2 linked regions of the Homo sapiens genome follow. The protein of the gene in region 1 purifies or fractionates together with the protein of each later gene. This does not show direct contact. Each region holds a gene or a part of one and is shown in the gene's direction. Other genes may lie near its edges.

Evidence for each region. Proteins that work in one complex are often made in the same cells at the same time.
Region 2: the proteins of NSF (region 1) and STX12 purify together in Homo sapiens (co-immunoprecipitation; 4 studies listed by BioGRID and IntAct, with this or other methods). This does not show direct contact.

The regions. Positions count from the first base shown.
Region 1 is NC_000017.11:46,596,164-46,601,457, forward strand, and holds part of NSF (vesicle-fusing ATPase), read left to right. Parts: intron 1-5,294.
Region 2 is NC_000001.11:27,821,581-27,825,839, forward strand, and holds the end of STX12 (syntaxin-12), read left to right. Parts: intron 1-650; coding exon 651-749; 3' UTR 750-2,863; downstream 2,864-4,259. UniProt on the Homo sapiens protein: SNARE promoting fusion of transport vesicles with target membranes. Together with SNARE STX6, promotes movement of vesicles from endosomes to the cell membrane, and may therefore function in the endocytic recycling pathway.

The DNA.
Region 1 (5,294 bases):
CCCTTTGATACATTGATTTCTTTTCCTTTGTGTAGATACCCAGTAGTGGGATTGCTGGATGGAAGGTAATTCTATTTTTAGCTTTGAGAAATCTCCATACAGTGTTCCTTAGTGGTTGTACTAGTTTACATTCCCACCGACAGTGTATGTGAGAGTTCCCTTTTCTCTGCATCCTTACTAACATCTGTTACTTTTTGTCTTTTTAATAATAGCCATTCTGACTGGGGTAAGATGATATCTCATTGTGGTTTTGATGTGCATTTCTCTGATAGTGGTGTGGAACATTTTTCCATGTCTTCTTTTGGCCATTGTATGTCTTCTTTTTTAATGGGATTATTTGTTATTTTCCTTTTGAGTTGTTCGAGTTCCTTGTATGTTCTGGATATCAGTCCTCTGCTTGATGAATACTTTGCAAATATTTTCTCCCATTCAACAGGTTGTCTCTTCATTCTGTTGATTATTCTTTTGCTGTGCAGAAGCTTTTTAGTTTGCTTAAGTCCCATTTGTTTAGTTTTCTTTATGTTACCTGGGCTTTTGATGTCTTAATCATAAATTCTTTGCTTACACCAATGTCCAGGAGTGTTTTCCCTAGACTTTCTTGTAGTATTTTTATAGTTTTGGGTCTTAAAATCTTCAATCCATTTTGAGTTGATTTTTGTATATGGTGAGAGATAGGGGTCTAGTTTCACACTTCTGCATGAAGTTATGCAATTTTCCCAGCATCATTTATTGAAGACAGTGTCCTTTCCTTAGTGTGAGTTCTTGTCAGTGTTGTTGAAGATCATTTGTCTATAATTATGTGGTTTTATTTCTGGATTCTCTATTCTGTTCCATTGGTCTACATGTCTATTTTTATACCAATACCATGCTGTTTTGGTTACTATAGCTTTATAATATATTTTGAAGTCAGATAATGTGATGTCTGCAGCTTTGTTCTTTTTGCCCAGGTTTGGTTTGGTTGTTTGGGCTTTTTTCTTTTTCCTTTTTTGGTCCCATATGAATCACATTGGTATTTTGATAGGGATTTCATTGAATCTGTAGATTGCTTTGGCAATATGGTCATTTTAGTGATATTAATTCTTTCCACAAGCATAGGATGTTTTTTGATTTATTTTCTTTCATTGGTGTTTTGTAGTTTTCTTTGTAGAGATCTTTCACCTCCTTAGTTAAATGTATTCCTAGGTTTTTGTTTGTTTTCGGTAGCTATTGTAAATGGGATTGCCTTCTTAATTTCTTTCTTGGCTAGATCCTTATTGATGTATAGAAATGCTACTGATTTAAAGGTTTTCTAAACCTACAGATATATAATCAGCAAAGAGACAATTTGACTTTCTCTTGTCCAGTTTGGATGCCTTTCATTTCTTTCTCTTGTCTGATTGTTCTGGCTAGGATTTCCAGTACTGTGGTGAATAGGAGTGGTGAAAATGGGCATCCCTGCCTCATTCCAGCTTTTAGAAGAAAGATCTCACCTCTCCTCATTCAGTATGATGTTAGCTCTGGGTTTGTTGTGTATAGACTTTATTATTTTGAGATATATTCCTTCTATGCCTAATTTGTTGAGAGTTTTTTTAATCATGAAGGGATGTTGAATTTTATCAAATGTTTTTGTTGTTGTTGCAATACTCTTTTTTTTTTTTTTTTTTTTTTTTTTTTGAGACAGAGTCTTGTTCTGTTGCCCAGGCTGTAGTGCAGTGGCGCGATCTTGGCTCACTGCAACCTCCACTCACTGGGTTCAAGCAATTCTCCTGCCTCAGCATCCCTAGTAGCTGGGATTACAGGCCTGTGCTACCACACCCAGCTAATTTTTCTATTTTTAGTAGAGACAGGGTTTTGCTATGTTGGCCAGGCTGGTCTCGAACTCCTGACCTCAAGTGATTTGCCTGCCTTGGCCTACCAAAGTGCTGGGATTACAGGCGTGAGGCACTGAGCCCGGCTGTTGCGATACTCTTAATGGGTTTTATATTTCCTTTTTGTGGGGGACAGTTTATTTTGCATTCTTACTACTTTTGATATTCTGACATCATCTTATAAGTGGGATTTATATTCACTATGTAATTGAAGTTTTTTCCAATGAAGCACCGTATATAGTTTATCTGGGAAATTGGCTGAAGAATAAAATGTGTGATGTTATTCAGTGTACAGTTTCTAGGTCATCAGAAGATACCACTACCTTCCCACTACTGGAAAAGAAAAAAGAAAAGTTTTCCACAGTGCCTGAACTGTTTTGTATGCTTATCTTTTAAAATTGCCAGAAATCTCACTTACTGGAGATTCAGCAGTCCCTTTCTGAAAATACACATACTTTAGTGCAAATAAAGCCAGTGGATCTCTTTCTTCATAAGTCCTTAAACCTAGTCGAGGTCATCTGTTTGGCAGAGATAGGAGTAAGATAATGTGAAATAGGAACCAACGAGAGAGAACTTGCTTAGGAGTTGAAAGGGGTATGGAAAGATGTTAGAGGTAAAATTTGTCGAATCTAGTGTTTTGACTAGGGCAGGCCAGAATATTCAGTATCAGTATCAATATCAGAAGCTTTTGTAGCCTTTGTTTAGAAACCTAGTCATTTATAACATTTTGTGGGTGAATGACATCATTACCAAACAAACTTTCAGATGAAACTTTGGAACTCAAGCTGTAAATTGTGGATAGCTCATGTGCAGTACTACAAATCAAAACAAATACTATAAAGTGTTTGGTAGTCCATTTCCTGAATGAAAGTTTGTCCAAAGTATATCAACTTTCTGCAGTCTTACATGCAGTAGTTATTAGTTTTGTGTATCGCTTTAGTGGATATTTTTAAAAGTATCTTCAAATGCAATGAATTTTAGGAAACAAAACAATTCTTTAAAGCATCATTAGATAGCTTCTTCTTTCTGAAACCCAGAGGAATTTATGTATAGGATGACTCTTTTTTTCAAGTAGTTAAGTTAAGGTGCAAAAGTATAAGGTAAAGTATATTATCTTACCATTGAAAATTTTGGCAGTGGCAGAAGAGCGAACCCTTACAAATACCTTCATTGGGCAATACACTAAGCACTTGCTGTAATGCTTTTTAAAACATCTATACTCTGGCTGTGGTATTTTAAGTGAAAATCTCTCAGTGAGATACTCTTTCGTATTTTAGTACTGATATCCTTAATATTGCTCTGAGAGCTACCTTATACTGACTTCAGTTTCCTAGTGATTTAAACTACTAATTTCCAACTTATTTTTTTTTATAGTGAAAACTAAATATTCCTTTTGTAGATGTAACCATTTCTGGAAGCCCTAAGTATTTTTGAATGAGTATAATTCATGCACACTTTAAGAGATTTCAAGCATGACAAGCACAGTGAATAACATATATCCATGTGATTACCACTGAGGTTTAAGAAATGTTAACATATGATATCTGCTTCAGATATTTATCTTTTTAAAAATAGAACATTACAGCTGGGCATGGTGGCTCACACTTGTAATCCCAGCACTTTGGGAGGCTGAGGCTGGTGGATCACCTGAGGTCGGGAGTTCGAGACCAGCCTGGCTGACATGGAGAAACCCCGTCTCTACTAAAAATACAAAATTAGCCGGGCATGGTGGCACATGCCTGTAATCCCAGCTACTCGAGAGGCTGAGGCAGGAGAATCGCTTGAACCTGGGAGGCAGAGGTTGCGGTGAGCGAGATCACAACTCCAGCCTGGGCCACAAGAGTGAAACTCAGTCTCAAAAATAATAATAATAAATAAAAAATAGAACATTACAGATCCAATTGACTCTTCTTTGTATTGCTCCTTTTTTTTTTTTTTTTTAGTTTTATTTAAAAATTTTTTTTAGAGGCTGAGTCTCACTTGGTGGCCTGGGCTGGAGTGCAGTGGCGCAGTCATAGCTCACTGCAGCTTCACACTCCTGAGCTCGAGCAATCTTCCTGCTTCAGCTTCCTGAGTAGCTTGGACTAGCAGAGGTGTGCCACCACATCTGGCTAATTAAAAAAAAGTTTTTAGAGATAGGATCTCTCTGTGTTGCTCAGGTTAGTCTCAACACCTGGCCTCAAGTGATCCTCCCACCTCAGCCTCCTGAGTAGCTGTGGTTGTAGGTGGCAGCCACCACACCTGGCAGTATCCCTTCTTGAGACCACTGACCTTTCCCAGAAGTAATCACTGTCCTGAAGTTGGTATAGATTCTTTCTGTCTACATCTATGCATGTTTATGCTCAAAAACAATATATTGCTTTGTGTGTCTTTAAAATGTATATAATGGTTTTATGCTATATCTTTCTTTCTGCAACCTGCATTTTTCACTTAAAATAATTTTGAAATTTAGTCCTGTGGATATATAGTGAGCCAATTAATTCTGCTTAGCTACTCTGTAGTCTGTTTTGTGAATATACCACAATCATCTACTTTCTTATTAGAGGACAATTTAGGCAGTTCCAATTTTATTTTTCCCGGAATGTACATTATTTTAGTCGAGTGCCATTGCCACATTAGCGATATTTTGGTTAGTGAGGGACTGCAGATAGGAAGGTGATCCCAAAAGATTATAATGCCATATATTTACTCTACCTTTCTATATTTACATATGTTTAGTTACACAATTACCCATTATGTTACAGTTGCTTACAGCATTTGGTGCTGTAACATGCTGTACAGGTTTGTAGCCTAGGAGCAATAGGCTATACCATATAGGTTTGTGTAAGTACGCTCTATGATATTCATATAACGATGAAATCACCTAGTGACACATTTCTCAGAATGTATCCCTATTGTTAAGCAACACATGAGTGTGTGTCTCCATGCATATATGTGTAAGAGTTAGCATGTGTGTCCAGAGGTAGAATTGCTGGGCGATAAGTCATACTCATCTTTACCTAGTTATGCCAGTTTATACTGTCACTAGCAGTATATGAGTACCTGTTATTTATATCCTCTCCAACACTTAATATTGCTGACATTTTAACTTTTACAATATAATAGGTGTAAAACTATTGTTTAAATTTGCATGTTGTCCTCATTACTAGTGAGATTAAGCATTTTTCATATTGGTCATTGGGATTTCCCCTTCTGTGAATTACTTTTGTATATTTGCTCATTTTTTCTGTTGGGCTGTGTATTTTTTTAGTGATTTGTATAATTTTTCGTTTTTTGGGGGGTAGGGTATGCTTTGGATTCTAATCCTTTGTTGTAAATAGCTTCTCTCAGACAGTGATGGTCTTTTCATGATGTTTATAGAGTGTTGGATTTAAATTTTATAGTTATAATTACCCTTTTTTTTTTTTTACCTTGGTGATTTGTGCTTTTATGTGTTTTTCAGGAAAT
Region 2 (4,259 bases), on another chromosome or scaffold:
CATAACAGTTTTATACGTATTATAAAATGTTATTAAAATACACATGCACAAATAACTTATTTTATTGCAAATAATGCCTGGCAGCACAGGTATAGTTCCTTTGCAAAATTGTATGTGGGGACTTGGAATTAAAACTTTGAAACCTATACTACTCGGCTGGGTGCGGTGGCCCACGCCTGTAATCCCAGCCCTTTGGGAAGCCGAGGCAGGTAGATCACTTGAGGTCAGGAGTTCGAGATCAGCCTGGCCAACACTGGTGAAACCCCGTCTCTACTAAAAATACAAAAACTAGCTGGGCATAGTGGCACACGCCTGTAATTCCAGCTGCTCAGGAGGCTGAGACATTAGAATCACTTGAACCTGGAAGGTGGAGGTTTCAGTTAGCCAAGATCGCACCACGGCACTCCAGCCTGGGTGACGGAGTGAGACTCTGTCTCAAGAAAAAAAAAAACACCAAACAAACAAAAAACACTTGCACTACTACCTAGTGCTGCTGACTTAAGATTTCTGGGAAAGTCTGTGCATAATTTTGCATGGATAGAGTTAATCTTTAATTACAAGGAGGCAGATTTATGAAGCATTCTTAGAGTCTTACACATACAAATTTTACTTGTTTCATGAGTATCTTGTTTACATATTTCTTTCCTCAGAAAAAATCTCGCAAGAAGATGTGTATCCTGGTGCTTGTCCTGTCAGTGATTATTCTAATCTTGGGACTTATTATCTGGCTAGTTTATAAAACGAAGTGATTGCCTCCGATCGTTCTCCCGCTGAGCTGTTTTCAAGGGCAAGTGCTTGTTGAAGTCTTGCCAGAACAAACTGATCACAAGAAGACAGCATATATCAGAACGTCCTGTAATCATTTAGTTAGAAACTAACTACTAACTAGTCTTTGGAATTCGTGACCTATGGAGACAGTAATTATCAATTTATTGATTCTATTGATTTCTCAAATTAGGAATTAACTTATGTGGATTTTGCTTCCTCTTGTATTCTGATTGCCCTTCATCCCAAGTGTTTACTGAAAATTCCATTCTAGATATTCTTGTTTTGACAAATGACACTACAGTCTCGTAATATTGTCTTTTATGTATATACAAAATTTACCTTTTTACTAGCATCTGAGATAGAGTTACTTTCTGGTACCCAGTATATTGGAGTCTGTCAGAAACTCTATAATAGGCCACCAGTTTTTATTATTTAACATTTTTATTTGAATTTCTAAGAAGCCTATTCTCTATCTATTTTGAAAGATTTTGGCACTATATTTAATTGGAAGGTAAAATATTGTACATGTGATCCAGAGTAAATGAGAAGTCTCTATCTGAGCTGGTCAGTTACTGGAGTACATGTTACTAATCTGGGTTTAAAGTTTACTTCATTATCTGCTAGTGTCATCCACAGCAGTTCATCCTCATCCACACTAAGCCATCCTGTTAGCTTTTAAAGGAAGTTAATTTAATTAACATTAATATACTCTATGGGCTCCCTCTCCCACCTGTCTGCATAGAAAGGCAGAATTAGACATAGCATGCTTTGGAAAAGCAAATAGGAATTGTTGGGAATGATTTAATCTTGTTGTTGTTGTTGTTGTTGTTCACTTGTGGTTCTACATTCCTGGTGAATGATGAATGTTGCTGTCAAAGGGCTGCCCCCTACCTTATAAGGGTTGCTGGGCATTTGAAGGCAGGAAGATTTTTAAAGATAGATTGAGGTTGGTTTAAAATTATTCCTGTAAACCAACAATAAAGCAAAGAAGAGGTTCATTTTTGTAAATAACACTGGTTTCAAATAGTGATGTTAGACTTAACCTAATTTATAAACAAGAGATTAATATCTCCATGCATAGTTTTAGACAAAAAAAGATGTTTCAATAAAATTACTGTCTTGTAATATAAATGTTGTCCACTTCCCTTTTCCACAGGCCTAGAACAGTTAAAGGGAACATAATTTGTTTAGGCTCCCACATAAATGTGAATCTGGCCAACAACTTTGGTTCATCCTTTAGTGAATTAGAGGATTTGGCTACCCTGAGTATATTTATATTCATTTCTTCTGTTCTCCTTCTGTTATTATACTTAATCTTCTAAACTAAACTAATGTGAACAGTAGGGAAGCAAGGGCCCAAATGCATAAGTTTCTTTGCACTGTTGCACTTACTTAATACAAATAAATGTTTTTTAAAGCTTTTGTAGTATGTTTTTATGAGTTAACATCCTAATGTGGTAGGTATTAGGTAATGTGCTGTCATGAGAAAAATTGAGACTTCCAAGAAAACTGGACACCAGGTGAGGGTTGGTTTGGAGACGGAATAGGTGTAGCTGCCTTTCCTTGAAAAACAGTGTGTAGAGATGGCTGAGTGCAATGGCTCACACTTGTAATCCCAACACTTTGGAAGGCTGAGGCGGGAGGATCAGTATATCGGTACGTCTGAGCCCAAGAGTTCAAGATCAGCCTGGGCAGTATAGCAAGACCCCATCTCCATTTTTTTTTTAATGATTTTTTAATTAAAAAAAAGAACAACAGGATAGAGCTGTTGGGGTGGCACAGTGGCCCAAAGAGCAGCTTCAGAGATAATTCCTTGGTTCTATGATCCCTGTTTAACTCCAAATTACAGTCGGACTTGGATACATCATTTGTAACATTGTAGGAAAGAAAAAAGTCTTGGTTGTGAAAAACGATTTGCATTTGGGTAAAATAAAGTGACCATGCTTTTGTTCTGTAATACTGTGTGACCTGTGGTTGTTGTAATGGTGATCATGGAGAGCAAATATGAACTTGGCCTGGATTTTAAATGGCCTAGAATTTGTGGTAGTTGCCAAAGAGGTTCTCCTAGGTGGTCTTAATAAACCTATTCACAGAATTCTCCTTATCTGTGCCTTGATTATCATTGGGAGCATCACAATCTAGGACAGCAGTTTTTAACATGGCTTCACATTAGAAACTAAAAAAATACAGTGCCCACTTTGGCAGCACGTATATAAAATGGGAACAATAGAGAGAAGATTAGCATGGCCCCTGCACCAGGATGACTTGCAAATTCATGAATTCTCTCTCTCTGTCTCTCTCTCTGTGTGTATGTATATATATACTTTTTTTTTTTTTTTTTTTTTTGAGACAGGGTTTCACGCTGTCGCCCAGGCTGGAGTGCCGTGGCACAATCTCAGCTCACTGCAACCTCCACCTCCTGGGTTCAAGCAATTCTCATGCTTCAGCCTCCCAAGTATCTGGGATTACAGGTGCTCACCACAATGCCTGACTCATTTTTTAAAATATATTTTTAGTAGAGATGGGGTTGTACCATGTTAGCCAGGCTGGTCTGGAACTCCTGACCTCAAGTGATCCGCCCACCTCGGCTTCCCAAAGTGCTGCAATTACAGGCCTGAGCCACTGGCGCCTGGCCGAAGTGCTCTATATTTTTAAAAAAATATTCTCTGTGCTCCTCTTCTTGCTAAAAAATAAAAAATAAATACTGATACCTCAGTCCCACAACTCCAAGATTTTAATTTAGTCTGGAGTATATATAGCTTGGGCATAGGGATTTTTAAAGGCCCCAGGTAATTCTTACCTGTAACTGTGGTTGAGAAGCATTGGTTTGGATGTCAGAAACTAGACTGGGGTACAAAAGACCTTAGCTGTGCCGTTAACTTGCTGAGGGTATTTGAAAAAGTCACTTATGGCTGGGCGCGGTGGCTCATGCCTGTAATCCCAGCACTTTGGGAGGCTGAGGCGGGTGGATCACGAGGTCAGAAGTTAAAGACCAGTCTGGCCAACATGGTGAAACCCCATCTCTACTAAAAATACAAAAATTAGCCAGGCATAGTGGCACACACCTGTAATCCCAGCTACTTGGGAGGCTGAGGCAAGAGAATTGCTTGAACCCAGGAGGTGGAGGTTGCAGTAAGCCAAGATCATGCCACTGCACTCTAGGTCTGGGCAACAGAGCAAGACTCTTGTCTCGGGGGAAAAAAGAAAAAGTAACTTAACCTTTAGGCCCCAAGTTTTCTTGGTAGCTCTTTTCCAGCTACGAAATTTTCTGATTATAAGGACCCACGGCAGTTTAGTGTGAACATACAAATTGTATTTTTACCTCTATCTTCCTTTCATTTTCTCATCTCCTTTTCTTTTTTTTTTTTTTTTTTTTTTTTTTTTTGAGATGGAGTCTCGCTCTGTTGCCCAAGCTGGAGTGCAGTGGCGTGACTCGGCTCACTGCAAGCTCCACCTCCTGGGTTCACGCCATTCTCCTGCCTCAGCCTCCC